Homo sapiens: one gene and its partner. The protein of the gene in region 1 interacts with the protein of each later gene in a pairwise test. Each region holds a gene or a part of one and is shown in the gene's direction. Other genes may lie near its edges. The genes, in order: CCDC13 and ASB15.

Region 1 (11,522 bases):
AGCTCCAACTCTGTCTCCAGAAAGGAAGGCTGGGAGGAGCCTGAGAACCCTGGAACACTAGAGCCTGAGGATCAAGAGGGAAGGCCTGGTCCAACTGACCTCCCACTGTCAGCCCAGCCATCTCCTGTACAGCATCCTCACTGGGGACACATCCAGACTCCACCTTACTCCAGGGACAGGGAGCTCACTACTGCCCAGTGGAATCCTGTTCTTTATGGGGCAGTTCATATTATGAACACTTTCCCTTTCGTGGGGCTCCAAATCTACAGAGTAAAAGTGGCTATTGGAAATGGGGACTTATTCCCCAGAGCCCATTTTACTAAACCAGTGACAGTTCATGAAACTCAAGAGGTGGGAATTGCAGCTCCATGAAAGGAAGTCAGTCTGACCTAGTGGGTTGGTTTATCCCCAAATCAGATAGTAAATATCATCAGAGTCTAACATTCCAGGAGGCTTCACCAAGGGTTTTCTTGGGAAGCCAGGCCAGTTGGTGAGAGAGGCAGCCAAGCCCCGGGACTCCCAATTTGGTGCTTGTTTTCTAGCCCCATCTTCCCTGCTGCCTGCACCTCAGGATCAGACTGCCCTGTGCCTTCCTTGAGGATAATTCAGTCCTCGCTGTGCAGTGATGGGCCCCTCAGGTTCCGGCGGGGATGGGCCCTCAGGTTCCGAGGTGAATGTGCCTCCTCAAGAGTAGTCTTGTGTAAACCTGTCTCATTGCTGGGGAAGTAGAAGAGGGGCTCTGCCCTCTACAGGGGCTGAGTATTCTTCAGGGCCTTTCCTGGCTTCAGGGGACACTGCTAAGCTGCCCCTGGTTTATTCCACGCATTGAGCACCTCCACATTCCGAACTAGGGCTGCCCTGGATAGGAAACTGCTTGTTCAGCCTGATGGGATTTTCTAAGCCCTGTGGCACAGAGAATCAAAAATAGAGCCTTGACCGGGTGAGGTGGCTCATGCCCGTAATCCCAGCACTTTGGGAGGCTGAGGCTGATGGATCACTTGAGGCCAGGAGTTCGAGACCAGCCTGGCCAACATGGTGAAACACCATCTCTAGTAAAAATACAACAATTAGCCAGGCATGGTGGCGAACGCCTGTAATCCCAGCTACTCAGGAGGCTGAGGCATGAGAATCGCTTGAACCTGGGAGGCAGAGGTTGCAGTGAGCTGAGATAGCGCCACTGCACTCCAGCCTGGGTGACAGAGTGAGACTGTGTCTCAAAACAAACAAACAAACAACTACAACAACCACCAAAAAAACAGAGGCTCTGTCTATGGAGAATCCCAGAGGAGGAATGAGAAGTCATTCGAAGGCAGGATGTGGACAGGGCCTTCAGAGATGGCCCCGGTGCTCTAAGCTCACAGGGGAGTCCACCCTCCATTAAGGTTGCAGCTGGAAGGTGGGACGGAGGAGGGCGTCCCTGAGCTGGCCTTACTGGAGAAGGAAGATGGGGAAGGTGAACTGAGTGTCAGCTGGATAACATTTGACTGCAGCCCAGAGCTCACACGGGAGAAAAGGGGAACGAAAGCCAAAAAAGCTGGGGTGAAGTCACCCATAGAGGGAGCCCTTGAATGGCAGCTGGAGCAGGAGTTTTGACTTTATTCTGTGGCCACAGGGAGCCTGGGAGGTTCCAGGTTCTGAGAGAAGAGTGTGTGATGGGCCGCAGGTCTCAATTCATCAGCACCACGTGTTCTCCCTGGCATCTCCTGATCAGAGCGAGAGCAAAAGCAATGTTTCCCCTCATAGGCTGCTCAGGGCGGCCCAAGCCCGAGCCACACTCCAGAGGCCTGCAGGCTCAATCCACATTCCAACCCTAGGCCTCCAAAGCACATTCCAGAGTGGAGCTGAACACCCTTCCCTCTGCTTGGGGCTTCAGGAGGCCGTGATGTGAGTAGCGTTGGCATCATCTGCTCCCCATGTACTGCGCTTTAGTTATTTTCTCAAAGAAAACAGCCTCGGGTAGGGGAGGGAGCGTACCCATACCCAGGTCCCCCACAAAGCCTGTGGAATTTCACTCTGGGAAGAAAGAACTCTGAAATGGCTTAGAGGTAGGATTAGCTCAACTGCCTAAGCTAGGAGGACGGGGCCTGATCCAGCCCTCTCCAGAACACCATCTAGCCCTCAGCCCACTTGTCAGCTGCCCACTCAAGCCAGGCTAGGCCTGCCAGCATTGCCCTCCATCAGGACCTGCCCCAGACAGCACCCTTGACATGCGTTGTCCTAGCAACCCTCTCAGGTTCCCTGGAGATTGGCATTACATATCCCCATTTTACAGATGAGAAAATGAGGCTTGGACAGGGCATCACTGCCCAGGTTCTAGAGCCAGATCCAATCTGTATGCTTTTTCCATGCTCTGAGCAGATCAAAGAGATGCTGCAGGGTCACTGCAGCCATATGGAAGCACATGTACTCCCACAGCTCTCAGCACCCCCACTGTCAGGGCCACTGGGGCTCATGGCGCTAGAGATCTGACAGGCAGGGCGGGGCGTGGCAGGGGGTGGAGGGGTGTTGCTTCCCAACCCAGGGCAGATTCAAAGCCACACATTCAACAGGAGAAGAGGCAGGCACCCAACAGAGTATGCAGGGATGGCAGGCGGCCAGACAGGAGGAAGAACACAGAAGAAAATATACTTTAAAAAAAAGGATGGCCGGGCACGGTGGCTCACATCTGTAATCCCAGCACTTTGGGAGGCCAAGGCAGGTGGATCACCTGAGGTCTGGAGTTCAAGACCAGCCTGGCTAACATGGTGAAACCCCATCTCTACTAAAAAATATACAAAAATTAGCCAGGCATGGTGGTGGGCACCTGTAATCCCAGCTACTCGGGAGGCTGAGGCAGGAGAATCGCTTCAACCCGGGGGGGCGGAGGTTGCAGTGAGCTGAGATTATGTTTCATATAAGTTCCGAGTTGGCACATTCTGTTCACGTTGGCTGTTCTCTTTAGCCTGATGGTGGTGCTCTGAGGAAGCGGAGCAGGAAAGTATTTGTATACTCATTCCATAGATGAGGACACTGGATGAGGCCAGAGTTTCTGGACCAGGTGTTCATGTCTAGTTTCTTTGGCCAGTGGTTTTCAGCTGGGCTGCCCAGAGCCTCTGGGGTCCATGGAACTTCCCGGACCCAGTATACTTGGATCTGTCTTTCACACTAGCATTCAGAGGAGATTTTGTTTGTGCCTGCTAGAGAAAGGTCAGAAAGCCACTGTAGTACCAGCCCTGCTTCCTGAAGTTCAGCTGCTTTGCCCTGTTGGGGCAGCAGCAGAGGGCCTCAGCGTCATTGCCTGATGGGATGCTCAGCCTGACAACCAACGTTCCTGTGGCCACAATGCCCAGCATTAACAGCAGCTTAAATTGGAAGAGTCAGCCAGGGCAGGGGAAGGACAAGTATTCTTTCTCATCCCACCTGTGTCACCCCAACCAGCTGTATGCCTGAAGGCAAATTACCTCCCCTCTCTGGGCCTTATTTTCATCATTATGGAAGGGGTTTAAATGGGCTGACCTTGAAGGTCCCTTTGTCAAATATCTATGAGTCACAGGAGTGTCTATTGAAGACAGAGAAGTAGTCAGCCCATTTAAGAAAAATTTCCATCCAGATAGTTTAAATAAAACATTGGGTTAAAAAAAAAAAAGACATTGCTAAGAGTTTCAGCAGGCAGTTTTCATGGTTGCTGTAGTTCTTCAAGCCACAGAGATGAGCATTTGGAAATTAAAATGGGTCCTTATTTCTATTCAGTGGTCACTGCTAGGAAAGAGAGCCCAAGGCCCCTCAGCTGTCAAAAGACCAAGGCCCAAGCTGACGATTCTGGGAGAGGCAGATCCTGAATTAGGATGCCATGGCTCTCCTGCCACGCTGGGCTTGCCTTCGGGGAATAACGTGGTTTCCTCTTTATTCTGAGTGAAGATGGATTAGCTGTGATGCCAGTCTCTGAGCACAGCAGTGGGTCCACACCCAGGAAGTGTCTGGGAGGCGTGGAGCCTGCCGCTTCCTCCAGATGCTTCACCTCTAGGGTAAGGCATACACCCACATGTGTGTGTGCAACACTCTGCAAAAAGCTCAGTCCCAAAGTTAAGCTGCCAGGATTCAAATCCAGGTTCCACCTTTATTAACCAGGTAGCTCAAGTAGAGGACTTACCTTCCACCACCCTCCATTTTGCATCTATAAGGGGCTTACAAGAGAACCTACCTCACAGGGGTTTATGAGGATTAAATGAGTTCTTCCATGTCAAACACTTAGCACAGTGCCTGGCACAGACTTGGATAAATGGGGGCTATGATTACTATTCCCATGTAGGCAATAAATGACTACTTTCTCTCCTGTCCTTCCCAACCAGCTGGAGACCCCAGAGGTGAAGGCCCTGCAGGACAGGCTGGTGGCCACCAACTTGAAGATGAGTGACCTCCGAAACCAGATCCAGTCTGTGAAGCAGGAGCTGCGGATGGCACAGAAGGTCTTTCAGAGCCAGGGCTTGGGGCTTCTTGTGTGGCTGGGGCTGGACTTGGGAAGAGCACGGCTGGCACAGTGGATTCCTTTCTGGAGCCATGAGTGCTCAGTCCCTTGAGCACACTGCTTGCTCTGGGTCAGGCTCCAGTTCCAGTCCTTCCTCCCACCAGCCCTTGGTCCATAACCATTTGGTGGGCAGAGTCGCTGGCTACCTGAGCCTGCCACCCCCACCCCCGCAGCATACCTGCCCTTGTGGTGCCTGCCCAGCTCTAGACTGAGGAGGACAGCACTGTCCACCCAGGGAGAGTCCATTAAGCCTTCCCTGCACTACTTGTGCCCCAGTAGATCCTGGGTCTCCCCTTAATGTCACCCTTACTTAACTTGAAAGCCTGCCAACACCTGCCTTCTTCTCTGCTATCTGTAACAGAAAATGAATAGGTTACTTGTGTATTAAAGGACCCTTTCAAAGGAAAATGCTCAGACTTGGGACACAGGCCCAGCTGGTTCGTTATTTATTTTTATTTACATAGCGAATTCTCTGGCATTTGTCTTCCCTGCTGGAACCACTCAGACTGGCCAAGATTTCCAAAACAGTGTTCTATTGTGGAAACAAGTGCCAGAGACTTGGTACGCTGGATCGGGTTTCTGTGACAGGCTTCAGAGGGGCCCAGGTCACAAGCTGGAGCGTATTGTTTCTGCCTCAAAGCCTTGAGGTTGGGCCTGAGTGCTGCACTTCAACAACCGCAAAGCTGGGTCCTTCTTGGACCACAGCACCCCAACTGACATTCAGTAGCCCACCTTTTGCTGCACTCAGAGGTCCACTTGTCCGTGGGTTTTCACAAAGGCTAGGGTCCTGTGGTGATGTACTTCCTATAGCCAGAATTAGCTCAGCACTAGGTGACAGGTGAGTGGGTTAAGGAAGCAGGAGTTGGTCAGCTTTGTGGTTCAGTCATCCCAGAATATGTCAAGAGCAAGGGGCCCTATCTGGGCATTGCTGGCAGTTTCTTGGCTGCTCTAAGCATTGCCAAGAAATGCCAGGGATGATGGGTTTACTACTTTCCCAGGGAGAGCTGCCCTTGGGACATGGAAAACTGACCTTTGAGGGCTATGCTCTGAGATGGGAAGAAGATCGTGTAGGTGAAGACTGCTTCTGAATATGCTTCTAAATACGTAGCAGCATCAGGGTCTGGTGGAGCCCTCTCTTTTGGCCACATTGAAGGCCCTGCCTTATTTCAGGTTTTGGCCAGAGAGGTTGGGGAAGACATCAACGTTCAGCAGCTCCTATCTTCGCCAGGGACCTGGAGGGGTCGGGCTCAACAAATTCTTGTTTTGCAGAGCAAGGTGAGTGAGTCATCAGACTTCTCCTGGCCTGAACAAAGGATTTAAAACACCCCAGAAAGAGCTGCCCTGACCCCCTTAGAGACCTAAGCACACAGTACCCAAAAAAGGCCTTTAGGTCTCACAGTGCACTCGTGCGGGGTTGTTGTTTTACCTTCTCGCCAACCAGCCTGATTTTAATTTGTTATTTAATGAACAAGCTCTTATATAACACTTAGCACATGCCAGGCACTGGAGCTTAACAAATGCCAACGCCTTTGGTTTGATTTATTTTACTCCAGGCATCTTTTTTTTTTCTTAGTTTATGTAGATTTGCGTGACTGTTGTAATTGTAAGCTTTTTCCAGTTTTGTCCAGATGCTTGTAGTCTTTTGAAAGTTTAATTACCCAATAAAAATTTAGCCTTGTCTCCCTCTTTATTGTCTGAATATTTTGGAGCATACCAAAAGCAGCTAACAGCAGGGGCTCTGGAGCCACACTGCTCAGATTCAAATCCCAGCTCTCCACTCACCAGCTGTGTGACCTTAAGCAAGTTCCTTTAGCTCTGTGCCTCAGTTTCCTCATCTGTATAATGGGGATAATAACGATGCCTACCCCACAGGATTGTTGGGAGAATTGAGTCAATACTTGTAAAATGCTCAGCACAGGGCCTGGCATGGAGGAAGCACTGTATAAAAGTTAGGTGTGGTTCTTTTCCCTTTGTCCCTTCAAACTGAGAAACATGTGAGAAGGTGTATGACTTCCACCATTTGCCAAGCATATCACCCTTGTTCCCAGGGACTTCGAGGGTCACAGTGGCTTTTATCTTCAGTGTCTCCCATGGGATCCTTGAAGCCAATATAAAGGGGGAAAAACTCCAAGAAGCTAATAGATGATAGTGCATGGCCTTGGGGTTCAAGAGACCTGAGTTTACGTTTGGCCACCGGTCTGCCAACTCTGACCTTGGGCAAACCCCTTCATCTTCCTATGTCTTCATCTTCACACCTGTGAAATGGGGTAACATAAAATAACATTTGTAAAGCACCTAGGACAGTGCCTGACCATAATAAGCACAAAACAACTTACTTCTTATTGTCATTAAGTTACATGTCAAATTCTTTTTTTTTTTTTTTTTTTTTTTTTGAGACGGAGTCTCGCTCTATCACCCAGGCTGGAGTGCAGTGGTGCGATCTCGGCTCACTGCAAGCTCCGCCTCCCGGGTTCACGCCATTCTCCTGCCTCAGCCTCCTGAGTAGCTGAGACTACATTTGCCCGCCACCACGCCCGGCTAATTTTTTGTATTTTTAGTAGAGACGAGGTTTCACTGTGTTAGCCAGGATGGTCTCGATCTCCTGACCTCGTGATCCGCCCACCTCGGCTTGCCAAAGTGCTGGGATTACAGGCATGAGCCACCACGCCCGGCCCTGTATGTCAAATTCTTAAAGGTAACAGTATTCTTTAATGATTAAATGGAATTGCCTCACAGCGCCACACGAGGGCACTGGTGGGTGCCTTCAAAGCTGTGCTCCTGCCCTTTGCCAGGGAGCCTAGCGAATTGTGCTTCCTTTCCTGGCTCAAGTTTACCAACATTGTTTTGTCATTTGGTTGTGTTGATAGGGAAACCAGGGTCAGAAGGACCCTAGGAGTTGTCTGCTTCTACCCTAGCGTTATAAGGGTGATAAGGGCATTGTTCTGTGGGATGACATCTACCTGCCACTTGCTGAAGGCCCACATGTGCCAGGCTGTGTTGACAGCTTCACCTAGACCATCTTGGGATTTTGCAAAGTTACCTAATCCTAAAAATAACCTGTAGCATTTAAAATGCAGATTCCATGTCCCTTCCGCTAGAACTGTAGTTTGTTGATCTGGAGTAAGCACCAAGATTTCAGTCCAAGAAGAACCTCAGAGGATTCCCAGGCTCAGACAACTTCACAATACTGAATCCTCATAACAGTGTTACGCAGGGCAGTGTTACTCTTAGGCCCATCTTACAGATGAGGGAACTGAGATTCAGAGAGTTACCTGTGCGCAGTCACACAATCTGTGAGGCTTTGAGGCAGTCTGTTTCCAAACCCTGCCTTCCCCTCTTCAGTATCTCCTGTAAGTGACTGCCATCTTCCGAGAAGCCCACCCAGTCTTAGGTGGTCTGTCTGTTAGAAAGTTCCTCCTTGCCCAGCACTTTGGGAGGCTGAGGTGGGCAGATCTCTCGAGCCCAGGAGTTCAAGTTCAAGACCAGCCTGGGCAACATGGTGAAACCCCGTCTCTACCAAATTTTATATATATATATATTTATATTTATATATTTATGTGTGTGTGTGTATATGTGTATATATATATGTGTGTGTGTATATATATATATAAAATTATCCAGGCACAGTTGCCTGTGCCTGTGGTCCCAGCTGCTTAGGAGGCTGAGCTGGGAGGATTGCTTGAGCCCGGGAGGCAGAGGTTACAGTGAGCCATGATTGCACCACTGCACTCCAGTCGGGGCAACAGAGCAAGACCCTGTCTCTAAAATAAATAAATAAATAAATAAATAAATAAATAAATAAATAAATAAATATTCTTTCTTGAACTGAGACCTGCCATCCTATCCATCCCTGGTTCCTGGGGCCATAGGTCTGCTTTCCAGCCTCAAACAGCCCCTCAGAGATAGGGTGATTTTTCTCATTCACCATTTTTCTAAGCTGAACTTTCCTGGTGTCTTCCAATGTGTTGCTCAAGATGCCAGCTCAGATTGTCCCCCACCCCTAGTCCTCCTCAGATGGGGCTACCACAGCCATCTAGAGAGGTGGTTCCATCTTCAGTCTGTGGGGTCTCCTATCACACTTCTGAGTAGAAGAGGCTGGCAGAAGACCCATTGTGGAACGACGAGTTTTACCATCCTCAGGTTCAAGAGCTTGAGAAGCAATTGGGCCAGGCCCGGAGCCAGTCTGCGGGAACAGCCAGTGATGAGTTGTCTGTCTATCCAGACCCAAGGAAGCTGTCGGCACAGGAGAAAAACCTGCTGAGGATCCGCAGCCTGGAAAGGGAAAAACAGGAAGGCTTGGAGGTAACGCGTGCCTGAGGAGGTCAGCTGGGCATGTGGGAACGAGAGATCATGATGGTGCCTGCAAGGGCTCTGAGGCACATGTGGTCAGAAGTCTGAGCCACCCCTTCTAGGCAGGAGACACCTGGGGACCTGGGTCACCTCTGCATGTTCCTCATGTCCTGTCAAACCAACTTGAGCTGCCTGACTGGGACCTCACTGTGAGCCCATTTAATGAACTTTTCGTGGCCCCATCCTGGCTGTTTTGGAGGTGCTATACCTGAAATTCTCATTGTAAAAGGGAGAGGGGGAGGGTCATGGCCCCAGAAGTATGATAGGGTTAGATGGGGCTTAAAGGGGGAAAGTTCCAGGCTGATGAAAGAGGTAGGCAGGCTGGACTCAACACCAGGGGCCGCATCTCACTGGCTGCGTTGGGAGTGTCAGAACTCTAACTCTACCAGGTTTAAGCAACAAAGGGAAGTCATTGGCCCATGTAAACGAACAATCCAGAGGTGGCCTAGCTTCAGGTGCAGATCGGGGCCTTGCTCTCAGCACCTTCTCCTGGGTTGGCTTCACTCTCTTCCACAAGGACCCTGGGTAGTCCCAGCTTCTCTCCTCCAATGCAGCCTCTACAGACAAAGGGTTTCTCTTTCCCAATAGTTCCAACAAAGTCCCAGAATTGAGTGTCTTTGGTCTAGCCTGGGTTATGTGACCATCCTTGAGCCCATCACTGTAGCCAAGAGTACAGGGTGTTTTGATTGGTCAAGCTTCAGACACCTGCCCCAAGGTTTGAGGGGATGAGTTAGCCTCCCCAAACTTGCAATGAGAGTAGGGAGTAGGGGCCACTTTAAAGAAGGTAACAGAAGCAGCATGAAGAGGTGCAGGCAGGCCATACAACAGGCCCACGTAGTGGCCCTGGCAGTGAGCTACCTAACAGTGAGGACTTGCCTTTTCATCTGGAGACTTTTGCCTGTGAGCACCAACGCTGGGTTAGGCCCTGTGTTAGGAATGCTGTAACCATGACCACATTGCACCTCCCAGCGCTGTAGACCATCAGCTGTGAGGAGGGAAACAGTGAGACCACAGAAGTGGACAGGGCCTGCTGGGCTTTGTATGCCAGCCAGGACTTTTGGCCTGTATCTTGAAGGCTGTGGAGAACCACCAAACGGTTTTTGTTTTTTTTTAGATAGAGTCTCGCTCTGTTGCCCAGGCTGGAGTGCAATGGTGTGATCTTGGCTTACTGCAACCTCCGCCTCCGGGGTTCAAGTGATTCTCCTGCCTCAGCCTCCCAAGTAGCTGGGATTACAGGCACCTGCCACCATGCCCGGCTAATTTTTATATATTTAGTAGAGACAGGGTTTCACTGTGTTGGTCAGGCTGGTCTCAAATTCCTAACGTCAGGTGATCCACCTGCCTCGGCCTCACAAAGTGCTGGGATTACAGGTGTGAGCCATTCGCCGAGCCCACGACAGGGTTTTAATTTGTGGAGGGAGGTGGTCAGCTGTGCATTTTGGAAAGGTCACATGGTTGGAGCAAGAGGAGGAATGGGTTGGAAGAGGAATGGAAGGCAGAATAGTAATCCTGGAGACATGACCAAAGATCTTTGCCAAGATAGTGGACTGTCATGGAAGGGCCAGACACCTGGGACAGTGAGGACAGACTTTCTAGGGCTCAAGGACTGATTGGACTTGGAAGAGAGATGAGGAGGAAGAGTTATAAAGGACTTCTAGGGAGTATAGTGGGTGGGTAAGGGAGACAGGGTGGGTTCAAGAAGAGAAAGGGAGTTGAGATTTGGAAATGCTGGGTTTGAAATGCACCTAGCTTGAACTTACATGTTAGTGCAGAACAGATTATGTTGAACAGTTGGGCTGACCATAAGCTGCAATAGCGGGTGGAAGGAAACAGCTTCCTGCATGCATTCCCTCTGGCAGGCACCCATAAGAGCCTGGAGTGTGTAGGCAGGAGAGCAACAGGTGAGTAATGGCTGCCTCCCTGCAAAGGGCTTGTGTCCTATAGATTCATGTTTTACTTGTTTTGCATTTCTATAATTCACTTCATCAAGGATATGAAAATACTTTTCCAGCAACAATTCACCCTCAGGATCAAGCAGGTGATGTCACCCACTGCCCAAGCTCCTCCCCAATGTCTCCATCTTGTCTTTATGGGTTTGCCTAATCTAACCTCTGCCCCTTCACTCACTGTGCTCCAGCCACACACCTTCTACCCCAGGGCCTTTGCTCTTCCCTTCATCTCCTTCAGTCTCTGCTCAGATGCCACCTTTTCAGAAAGGCCTTACCTGACCATATCCTTCTCGCTATTCCTGTTTCCTACTTTCAAATTAGCATTTGTCACTATTTGACATTATCTGTCTCCTCCATTAGGATTATCAGCTCCTTGAGGACAAGGACTGTTTTGCTTTTTGCTGTCCCCCAGCATCTATAACAATACTAAGCCCATAGTAGGCCCTCAGGAAACCATAGTAGGAAACCTCAGGAAACCCATAGTAGGCCCTCAGGAAACCCTCGAGAATGAAGGGATGATTGAATGAGAGACTCCGAAGATGTGTGCTGCATGTGAGTTTCCAGTTGGTAGCTGACAAAGCAAGGTGCTGTCAGGGGTTGTGCCAAATAATCATGGAGGAAGTGGGAGAAAAGACCCTCCTTTCTCATTCTAGCTCCTGGTGGTGCAAGGTGCTGCAGTTGGAACCTAGCCCAGCACTCTTTTTCTAAAGTATGGCTTT
Region 2 (11,522 bases), on another chromosome or scaffold:
AAAACGGGCATCTCCTGCAGGGATGGCTTGCCTGCTCCCAAATGAAGTAGGCAAAGTTCGTCTTCATCCTCCCATTACCACATTGGGAGCTGCTTTCCTTGCCTTGGCTTTAGATCCTTTCTGCGTTCTGCCTCCTGGTTACCCCAGAATGTTCCATGTGGCCTCATATCTTCTTCTACGTTTCCCAGTACAGGCCCAGACTTTGAGTCTCTCTTTAAATAGAAGGCAGCATAGGCTTCTTCTCTAGGCCATAAACTCTACGAGTGAGATCCAAATCTGTCTCTTCTTCCTGTTGTCCACAGTGCATAACACAGAGCCTTTAGTGGAGCTAGCCGTATTAACTGAATAGGAAATGAGTGAGTGAATGAATGAATGAGTGAATGTAACTGTGTACATCTCCATTTGTAGGGGCAGCACTCATCCTAATCTGTATTTTAATAAGATTTTACTTAAAAGGAAAAAAAAGTTACATTTTTAGAAGTGTATACATCTAAATGGGGACAATCTCTTAATAATCCAAAAGGGGAAAACCTTGTAACAGTATAATTTCAGCCATTAGAGATGAGCAGAGAGGGAGAGGGACAACTGATTTGGTGAACCTCCTTAATTGTACTACATTAACGGTCACTTACTTCACTCACTGGGAACAGTTGGCCTATGTAGATTCTAAACAATCTAATTGATAATCACCCATTAAAAATGTAAGAAAGAGGGCCGGGCGTGGTAGCTCACACCTGTAATCCAAGCACTTTAGGAGGCCAAGGCGGGCAGATCACGAGGTCAGGAGTTTGAGACCAGCCTGACCAACACGGTGAAACCCTGTCTCTACTAAAAATACAAAAATTAGCCAGACTTGGTGGTATGCGCCTGTAATTCCAGCTACTCAGGAGGCTGAGGCAGGAGAATTGCTTGAACCCAGGAGGTGGAGGTTGCAGTGAGCTGAGATTGTGCCATCGCACTCCAGCCTGAGCGACAGAGCGAGACTCTGTCTCAAAAAAAAAAAAAGAAAAGAAAAGAAGAAAGAAAGAATGGAAGGAAGGAAGGAAGGAAGAAAGAAAGAAAAGAAAGAAAGAAAGAAAGAAAGAAAGAAAGAAAGAAAGAAAGAAAGAAAGAAAGAAAGAAAGAGAAAGGAAAGAAAATACATATATAAGAAAGAGAAGTTCATTCAATACTTGCTGCTATCTTTTGCGGCAAGGGGAAAAAACCCTGTTTCTATAGGGGAAACCTGATGAACATGATTTACATATGAGGTTCCTGGGTCCTAGGAGTGATATAATAATAATAGCCAGTTACTGAGCTCCTGTTATGTACTAGGTACTACACTGAGAATTTTACATACATTATTTAATTTGTACAACCCAACAACAAGTGTTATTTCCATTTTGTTGGTGAAGAAATTAAAATTTGGAAAGAGGGCACACAGCATCCTATCCTAGTGATACGTGTTATTTTCTGTGAAACTCTTACCCCTCCTCCAGGTCTTAAAGAAAAGGTAGTGTCATCTTGTAAACTTATATTTCACAAATATAAACTTGGGTATGAGAAACAGAAGGGATATGAGAAATACATTATTTTCCTTGTAGAAAAAAAGTTACTAGCTAGTATCTATTTCAATATTAAATTTAGTAATTAGTTTAATACCACCTAAGGTATTTGTGTTAATATACTTACTGTTGTTTTTAACAATCATTTTCAAGCTGTGAAAAAGGGCTCCTATGACATGGTGTCGACTCTGATCAAACATAACACTAGCCTAGACCAGCCCTGTGTCAAGCGATGGTCAGCAATGCATGAAGCAGCCAAGCAAGGCCGAAAAGATATCGTAGCTCTGCTGCTGAAACATGGAGGCAATGTCCACCTGAGAGATGGATTTGGAGTCACACCACTAGGCGTCGCTGCCGAGTATGGTCACTGTGACGTGTTAGAACATCTAATCCACAAAGGTATGTGAAAAGGAGTTACACTTCCTGACTTTTGTCCTGCCTCTCGAACTCTCCTTTTCTCCATTCATCACTCTTCCTCACCTGAATGTAACTAGGGGAGCTCCTCTTCCTCTGCTGAATGGAACTTGGCATCAGGTTTTCCCACCTGGTCCCTCAGTAGACCCTTATTCTACAACTCAGCTAAGCCCTATACATTGTGACCTACGAATTTACAAGCCCAGTCCTGATTGCTCTCTCGAGAGACAGTTCAATCTGCACATAGATGGCCCATCAGGGCCTCATGCTCATCTTCTCCTTAACTGAATTCCTCCTGTTTTTCTACTCTTCTAATGTAATAATTTCTCTCAACAGGATTGAAAGATCGTATTTATCTCTAATTCCTCCATCACCTGCTTTCCTAAATCCAATCAGTTGCAAATTCTTGTAGCGTTTCTCTTGTCCTCTCATTGCAATCCATCTGCCATCCTGATCAGGTCCCTCAATTCTCCCTGGACCAGTGCAAATAGTTTCTAACCATTTTCTGGGTTTCTAGTCTCCCATCAGAGAATCACAGTACATACTGCAACTTGGCTCCTCTCCCTATAGGGCAGCTACAATAGTGTCAACTATCCAAAAAACAATCCCTATTGCATCATCTCAAATTGTTTTACCACGTTTATCCCTCACTGCTCCCATCTTGTATCCTACACTCCAGTCAAAATATACTAGCAGTATTCCCAAACGTACCTTGCAGGGTTTGGGTCAGGTCCTTGCCTTTATCTCTTCAGCACAATTCAAAGTCAATCTCTTGAGACACCTCCTCCCTAAATCCTTTCCTAATTCTTTCCAACAGATTGTGACACTGCCCTTTCTTAAACCCTCCAGGTGTTTTATACAACTACAGAACCATGAGTTAAGGAGACCTGACTCCTAAACTGGTTGAGCCACTACTCACTGTGAGACCCTAGCCTTATTCCTTAAATATCTGGTCCTCAGCGTCCTCATCTGCAAATGACCTCTAGAACCGCATGATCCCCAGTGATTCCCTGTAGGAAAAAGACTAACATTTTTGAGGTGTCCCAATACAACCACGTTTAATTTTCAAATAAGCCCTGTGAAGTAAGCTGTATTAATCATTCACAGATGTGGAGATGGAGGTGCACGGAAGTAAACGGCTTGCCCCCAGCTCTCACCATAAGCAGCAGAGCCACAGTCCCCTACATCATGTCTCCTTGTCTTAATGTCAGTGTCACTGGAATATCATACAGTTTGTGCTGTCTGATATTTTGTTTCATTTCCCCTCTAAGCTCCTTAGAGTAGTCACACTTATTCTTCTTAGGGTCACACACACTGATTGCACATAGAGGGCAATAAAGTATTTGTTAATACTTTATTAACTGTAAGTATTTGTTAAGTTAAAATAGAGGGGGCCGGGCACCATGGCTCATGCCTGTAATCCCAGCATTTTGGAAGGCCAAGGTGGGTAGATTACTTAAGGCCTAGAGTTCAAGACCAGCCTGGCCAACATGGCGAAACCCTGTGGTGGCACATGCCTGCAATCCCAGCTACTCAGGAGACTGAGGCAGAAGAACTGCTTAAACCCAGGAGGCGGAGGCTGCAGTGAGCTGAGATCACACCACCGCACTCCAGCCTGGTCGACAGAGTGAGATTCTGTCAACATAAATAAATAAATAAATAAATAAAATAAGAAACTACTGTCTTTAAATTAAAAAGTCTAATGAGCCTTTTTCAGAAGAATTTGCCTGTCATGAAAATTGACTTAGTTTCTCTCATGATTTTTGGCCCAAAGATTTTAATAAAACAAACCATGCTGCATGCATGACTGTTTATTGAAAGTATAGAAAACATGGAGGCCCTTAATTCTATACTTTTTAAGTACTAACCAGAAAGGAACACAACAGGTTTTGTGGGGGTTTTTTGTTTGTTTGTTTCTTTGTTTTTGAGATGGAGTCTCACTCTGTTGCCCATTCTGGAGTGCAGTGGAGTGATCTCGGCTCATCACAACCTCCACCTCCCAGGTTCAAATGATTCTCCTGCTTCAGACTCCTGGGTAGCTGGGACTACAGGTGCACGCCACCGTGCCCAGCTAATTTTTGTATTTTTAGTTGAGACAGGGTTTCACCATGTTAGCCAGGCTGATCTCGAACTCCTGACCTCATGATCCGCCCGCCTCAGCCTCCAGTGCTGGGATTACAGGTGTGAGCCACCATGCCCAGCCCCACAACAGGCTGTTTTTAAGGGGATTGTTTAAACAATACCATCCAGTTATCATTATGCCACGTTTTATACTGCCAGGTGGTGATGTGCTTGCTTTGGCGGATGATGGGGCGTCGGTGCTGTTTGAGGCAGCAGGAGGTGGCAATCCCGACTGCATTTCCCTCCTGCTGGAATATGGAGGAAGCGGAAATGTACCTAACCGAGCAGGACATCTTCCTATACACCGAGCTGCCTATGAGGGGCATTATCTGTGAGTGATAAATTATAGGGTAATTATTTGAGTTAAAAATGCTAATTTGTATATACAGTATAATCACAAGTCTATATGTAATACCTTTCAAAATCCAAGGAGAAATAGGCATAATCTTCAGGTTTTGATGCTCCAAATTTAGATATTTAGAACTTATTTAATTTTCCTCCTTTTGATATTCTTGTACTTCCAAAAAATGAATTTATAGTACTTTTATAATGAAAAGAAATTTTCTTTTAGAAGGAATTAAGGCATAAGTGAGAATTCTGCACAAGCCACTCAAGAGTGCCTTTCTGTTTACAAATGTATTTAACAAAAGGCTACAGTTTCTAAAAATTTTGCCCTTGACAAAGGATTAAAATTTGTAGCAATACTATCAGTGTTATTCCAGTTATTTCCTAACATCTCCAGGATATTATAGTATAATGTCAAATGTATTGTTGAATAGAAAAGTTTCATTATAAGTTTATAATTTTTTATTCCATACGAACGGTTGAATAGATTCTTAAATCACAAAATGTACATAATTAACACATTGGTAGAAGTCTAGATCCCTATATTAAACTACCCACCATGAGAAGATGGTTTTAGGCAATTAAATATATTTCATAAGCTCAAAAACTTTGAAGTAATCGGGCTTTATAGTTTTCAGTGGGCCATTGGCTAAGTGGCCAGTGACGCATAATTGATGCTAAGTGACATGTTGTTAGAGTTTACCTGGATTTACTCCCAGTGTTCATAAATTCACAACAGTAGACACAAGAGATCAGGTTCTCCTTGCCTGTGACTCTCATACATGTCTGGCTGGTTAGTCAAGTGTGAAACTCACAACTATATCACATGTACTTAGAAACATAAACTGTGGCTGGTTATCTCAATTGGACTGATGCAAGGTTGATGGAATACTAAAGACTCTTCTTTTGGCTAATAATTCAATTGCAAGTTATATGGAAGCAGACAGAGTGTTCATGGTCAATATTAAAAAATAGATTGTGTAGGAATCAGTGAAAGAGGAATAATTCATGAGAATTGGAAAAGGCCCAAATTCTTGTCCTGCTCTGCGTCTAACTGTGTGACCTTGGACAATCTTTTTGCCTCTCTAGACTTCAGATTGTTCTTCTGTTAAATGAAGCAGTTGGACTGAATGACATCCAGGGTCACTTCCTATCACCCCATGATCCTAATGGTCAAGATTATGAAGCATTCCTCTGTGGCATTAGAAAGGCTTACTTTTCTTCTACATTTTTAAAAATAGTATTGGTTGCCTGTAAATATTATATTGTTCAGAGGAGAATTGGAAGATGGGGCGTGTTCTTGAGGAACTACAATTCTAGGAAAAAACATATAAGATGCAGTTTCCCAGGAATATTTAGAACAAAAAGCTAAATCAAAACTGAGCTACATTACACTAAACTAAATAGTTGTACCTCGGCAGACAAAGGTTAAATGTTTCAGTATAAAGTTATCTAGAGAAAATAAGGGAAACTATACAACTTGCATTCACTTATCTAGTGAGAACGGTAGTTTATTTAATTTCTTGATTTTCTTTATGGCAAGTAGATATTTGACTTTTTTCTTTTAGTGCACTGAAATATCTTATCCCAGTAACATCTAAAAATGCAATTCGGAAAAGTGGGCTAACACCAATTCACTCAGCAGCAGATGGACAAAATGCACAGTGTCTAGAACTGCTCATTGAAAATGGTTTTGATGTCAACACTCTACTTGCTGACCACATTTCCCAGAGCTATGACGATGAGAGGAAGACTGCGCTGTATTTTGGCGTTTCTAATAATGACGTTCATTGCACAGAAGTCCTTCTGGCTGCAGGTGCAGACCCAAACTTAGATCCCCTCAACTGTCTACTTGTTGCAGTGAGGGCCAATAATTATGAAATTGTCAGGCTGCTTCTCTCCCATGGAGCTAATGTCAATTGTTATTTTATGCATGTGAATGACACTCGTTTCCCCAGTGTCATTCAATATGCTCTAAACGACGAGGTAATGCTGAGGCTATTGCTGAATAATGGCTATCAAGTGGAGATGTGCTTTGACTGCATGCATGGTGACATCTTTGGAAATTCATTTGTGTGGTCAGAGATACAGGAAGAGGTGCTGCCAGGATGGACATCTTGTGTAATAAAAGATAACCCGGTGAGTTATGCCTTTTCTGCTTTATATTGAGTTATCATCCTAATTTAATACATGTTCATTCAATTAGGGATGTTACAAGAAAAGAAAAATAAACTCTAATTTTTCTATTTTTCTTGTTTTTTCAATTTTTGTATGCAATGATACAGGGATATAAGCATAAATCTAGCCCCCCAACCTCTCCCCCAAAAATATGTTGTTTGTTTTTTCTTGACTTGAAAACTGAATGTAGAAGAATGTGAAAATGTATGTAATTAGTCACTTCTGCCTGTTTGGTAGAATATTGGGGCCAGATGGGAAGAAGCATGACTTCTCCATGCTTTGCTGACTACAATCACATCAGAGCCAGGCGAGTCTTCAGGGCTGATGGTTTCACAGAGAGAAGCAAACAATTTATTTTTAATTTTTGTTCATTACAAGGAGAGATCTTTTATTTTCTGTAGTAAAACAGAGTAATTTTTCCATAACACAATTGAGTGTTTATGTATATGATATTAAAAATACTACTAAATTAAATTTTATCAATTCTCTCAGTTCTGTGAGTTTATTACAGTTCCTTGGATGAAGCACTTGGTAGGCAGAGTTACTCGTGTACTAATAGATTACATGGATTATGTTCCTCTGTGTGCTAAACTGAAGTCTGCACTAGAAGTACAGAGAGAATGGCCAGAAATCCGCCAAATACTAGGTAAAAACCAAAAGTTTTGCCTACAATTTTTAAATTAAGAACTTATATGGGGGAAATTTCTTAATGTCTTCTTTGATACTTTTCCTATGCTACTCTACTGTATTTCCAGAATTATCTGGGTTTTAAAATCATCCTTAACACTTCCTCTGTTGTAAGATACATATTTTCATTTTTCTTTATATTTTCCAGCTTTGTAATTGTATAATGAGTAATACTACAGCTATATTAACGTTCTGATTACAATTCATTTTAAAAATTAACTTCTATAATATCATACAATACGTAGACTGCAAGCTCCATGTGGGTAGAGATCTACTTTGTTTCTTGTTATATTTGCAAGGCTTAGCATAGTGCCTAGTAAGTAGTACATTTCAATAAATATGGAGTAAATGAATGAACAGCAGGGATTAGAATTACTCTTTTTGACATGCTTTCTCTGGGGTCTTTATTGACAAAGTCCTACCATCAAAGGTTAGTATTTGTAGACAGGCCATTTTGTCTTTTCTAGGTGAAAGTTTACCATGAAAATGAATAATACAAGTTTCAATGAAAGTACATTTTTAAATAATGCAAATACAAATAAAAACCAGAAAAATATCATAGATTTGAGATGCTTTCACTTTCAAAATATAAGTTTGGAAAAATAAACTTTCAAAACCTAGTTGGACATCAATTTCATGAAGCCTAAAGAAGCATTATAGAATTTTATATGACATTTAAATAATTTGACATTTTTAATGTACCTGAATCAGCCTTCCCCTGGAATTAGTTCTATAATAGAAGAGACTTTGCAGCAACTAAAACAGGAGTCTTGGAGAATCTGATGAGTAATATAGTATTGTTAGCCCAGAAATTGAGCTCTGGGGTCAGATAGACCTAGAATGAAATGAAATTCTGGCCTTGCCTAGGAGTAGGATTGCTAGATTATAAAATGCATATGTAATTCAGGACTGATGTTTTCATGATAAAAAGCAACAATTTATTGTTACCATTTTTGCTTCTCTAAGTGGAGGAGGATTTTTTTATTTCCTATAAAAAGACCAAGATAGCCATCCTAGTTGTGTGACTTTGAGCAAGTTACTTATTCTTCTTATGCCTAGGTTTTCCCATTGCAAAGTAGATGTAAGATAGTATTAACCTCATAAAGTTGTTGTGGGAATCTAAAGAAATAATGCATATAAGGTGGTAGTGTCTAGAATACTTAAATTACTTAATAAATTTATTTAGTTTTAAAACTAAAGTATTAACATTTTTATGTTTTTACTACATGGTAAGTTTATGTGAGGTATCTGAAATGTATATGTACAGTGTGCTATGAAATATTGTAAAGTATTATCATGCTTATTTTTTACAAATAAAAAGCTAAGCCTAAGGGAAATTACAAAACAGTCTAGACCCTATGCATTCTTGAAAACCACTTCTCTAAGTTCCCTTCCTGGACTTAAGCCCGCATTGAGAGTAAAATCAAAAATCGAGCAGGACAGAAACAAGAAAGGACCCACAAAAAAGTTGGGGTGGCAAACAGAGCCAGGAAACCTCAGAGATCTAACCACCATATTTTGAGTCATTGCAAGAAAATAATAGAGTAAGAAGCTCTGCAAAGTTAGAAGAGCTATCTGGAACCAAGCATCCTTCTAAAAAGTCAAGAAAACTAAATGCAAATAAAAATGAGCAACAGAGAGGGCGCGGTGGCTCACACCTGTAATCTCAGCACTTTGGGAGGCCGAGGCGAACGGATCACGAGGTCAGGAGATCGAGACCACCCTGGCTAACAAGGTGAAACCCCGTCTCTACTAAAAATACAAAAAATTAGCCGGGCGTGCTGGCGGGCGCCTGTAATCCCAGCTACTCAGGAGGCTGAGGCAGGAGAATGGCGTGAACCCGGGAGGCGGAGCTTGCAGTGAGCCGAGATCGCCCCACTGCACTCCAGCCTGGGCGACAGAGCGAGACTCCATCTCAAAAATAATAATAATAATAATAATAGAAAGAAGAACAGAATAATATCCCCACGGGCAATGAATACATAACTTAAAAAATGCAAACCTTCTATTTCAAAAATGAGCTAAAAAGCATGAGGAAAATAATATCAGATATGAAAGAACAATACGAGTCAAAATTTGAAAAATTCAGAAATCAGGTAACAACTGAGGAAAGATTTAGGAATAAAAATTAGAAAAAATTAATGTCAAATGTGAAGACTGAACTAGAATGAAAACAAGAACTAGCAACACAGTTGACAATACATTGAGAGATATAAAAGAGGATATGGAAGAAAAATTGTAAATCAAATATAAACGAAGAAATAGATAAAAGGATTTTAAAATATGTATATTTGTTTATTTCAATAGGTTTTGGGGGAACGGGTCGTGTTGGTTATATGGATAAGTTGTTTGGCGGTGATTTCTGAGATTTTGGTGCACCCATCACCTAAGCAGTGTACACTGTACCCAATGTGTACTCTTTTATCCCTGACCCACCCTTCCCCCTGAGTCCTCAAAGTCCATTGTATCATTCTTATGCCTTTGCATCCCTGTAGCTTAGATAAAAGGATTTGAAAGACAGCTAAAAACATTGATGACAGACAATGAATAGTCAATATATGGATAATAGGATTCCTTGAAAAGGAAAACCAAATCAAGGGAACATAAGAAATACAAAAAACTAAGTTTCAAGAAAAACTTGTAATAAAAAAGAAAGATTTGAAACTATAATATATAAAATACTATATCCTTTGGGCACATAGGCAAAAAGAACAAGTGACTTATAAGAGAAAAAAATAGATTATTATTAAACTTTTCATCAACAATACTTTATGCCAAAAGACAATGGAGTAACATATTTAAGACTCTCCTTGGAAGGAAAATGTGAGGCAAGGATGCTTACACAGCAAAATTGACTTCCAATGATCAATGTAGGCAAACTGTTGTCAGCATGCAAGAACTCAGGAAATATTGTTCCTCTTGCTGACGTCCAAAGGATCCACTAAGAAATGGCCTTTAGACAACCCAAAATGATTAGCGAGATATCACCATGAGGACTAGTATTAAACAAGGCTAACACTAAACAGAATGCCAAGACTAAGTGAGAGTTAAAAGGGAGAAGATGCAATACATAATGGTTATATGCTCTGATAAAATAGATACAGCACAATTATTTATTTTTGAATATTAGTACATAGATAAAATAAATAATATTTAATAATTAGAATACATATTTTTAAATATCTTAAAATATTGATAGTGATATAATATTAATATTGTTATGCTGAGGATGAGAGATATATTCAGTAAATGAGTAATTAAGGAATATTCCAATTCCATTACTCTTTGTATCCTTGAAACCAAGGATTGTCAGTGTGGCAGAAAGAAAATACAGATGTAATAGAGAAGAGATTAAAGAGAAATCCTGTAGTCCTGAATTTGAATTAGAAATAACAATATAAACTCATAAGCTATTTTATCTTGAAAGCATCTGTGTGCATGTGGATTATGCTGAGTGTGTGTGTGTGTGTGTGCACGCGCGCGCACGTGCGTCTGTTTACAGATAAGTCTTAGAAATAATGATGAACCCAGTAGCAATGAGCATTCCTACGACCCAGATTTTGGCCTGGAAATGCCATTTCCTAACAAAAGAAACCAGGGTTTTTGCTGGAGGTTGTTTTGTTTTGTTTTTGAGAAATGGATGATTGTATCTGGGGAAGGAAATGAATAAGATGAACCTGGAACATCTGGTCATACCAGAAAGCAAAGAAACTCTGAAAGACTACATGATTCATGACAAAAGAATTCAGGGGCTAACTTGAAGAGGCTCCAACTGGCCAAAGATGGGACAATTTAAGTTTCAAAAAGGGTAATGATTTCAATGAATTGAAGCCAATCTATTTAAATATACGATTGGTGGGTTTTTTTCTGTTTTTTTTCCTTCAACTTGTATTTTAAGTTTAAGTGTACATGTGCAGAATGTGCAGGTTTGTTACACAGGTAAACATTTATCATGGTGGTTTGCTGCACAGATCATCCCATCACCTAGGTATTAAGTCCAGCATCCATTAGCTATTCTTCCTGATGCTCAGACTCCCCCAGCCACCCCCCCGACAGGCCCCACCCAGTATGTGCTGTTCCCCTCCATGTGTCTGTGTGTTCTCATCATTCAGCTCCCACTTATAAGTGAGAACATGCAGTGTTTGGTTTTCTGTTCCTGCATTAGTTTGCTGAGGATAATGGTTTCCAAATCCATCCATGTCCCTGCAAAGGACATGATCTCATTCCTTTTTA

The links.
Region 2: the proteins of CCDC13 (region 1) and ASB15 interact in binary tests that used the Homo sapiens proteins (3 or more experiments, as listed by UniProt).

Annotation. Positions count from the first base shown.
Region 1 is NC_000003.12:42,740,180-42,751,701, reverse strand, and holds part of CCDC13 (coiled-coil domain-containing protein 13), read left to right. Parts: intron 1-1,186; exon of another isoform or gene 1,187-1,884; intron 1,885-4,328; coding exon 4,329-4,445; intron 4,446-5,674; coding exon 5,675-5,779; intron 5,780-6,543; exon of another isoform or gene 6,544-6,759; intron 6,760-8,635; exon of another isoform or gene 8,636-8,644; coding exon 8,645-8,806; intron 8,807-10,614; exon of another isoform or gene 10,615-10,727; intron 10,728-11,522. UniProt on the Homo sapiens protein: Required for primary cilia formation and promotes the localization of the ciliopathy protein BBS4 to both centriolar satellites and cilia.
Region 2 is NC_000007.14:123,622,872-123,634,393, forward strand, and holds part of ASB15 (ankyrin repeat and SOCS box protein 15), read left to right. Parts: intron 1-102; exon of another isoform or gene 103-289; intron 290-1,697; coding exon 1,698-1,943; intron 1,944-2,024; exon of another isoform or gene 2,025-2,086; intron 2,087-4,238; coding exon 4,239-4,410; intron 4,411-5,992; coding exon 5,993-6,563; intron 6,564-7,094; coding exon 7,095-7,248; intron 7,249-11,522.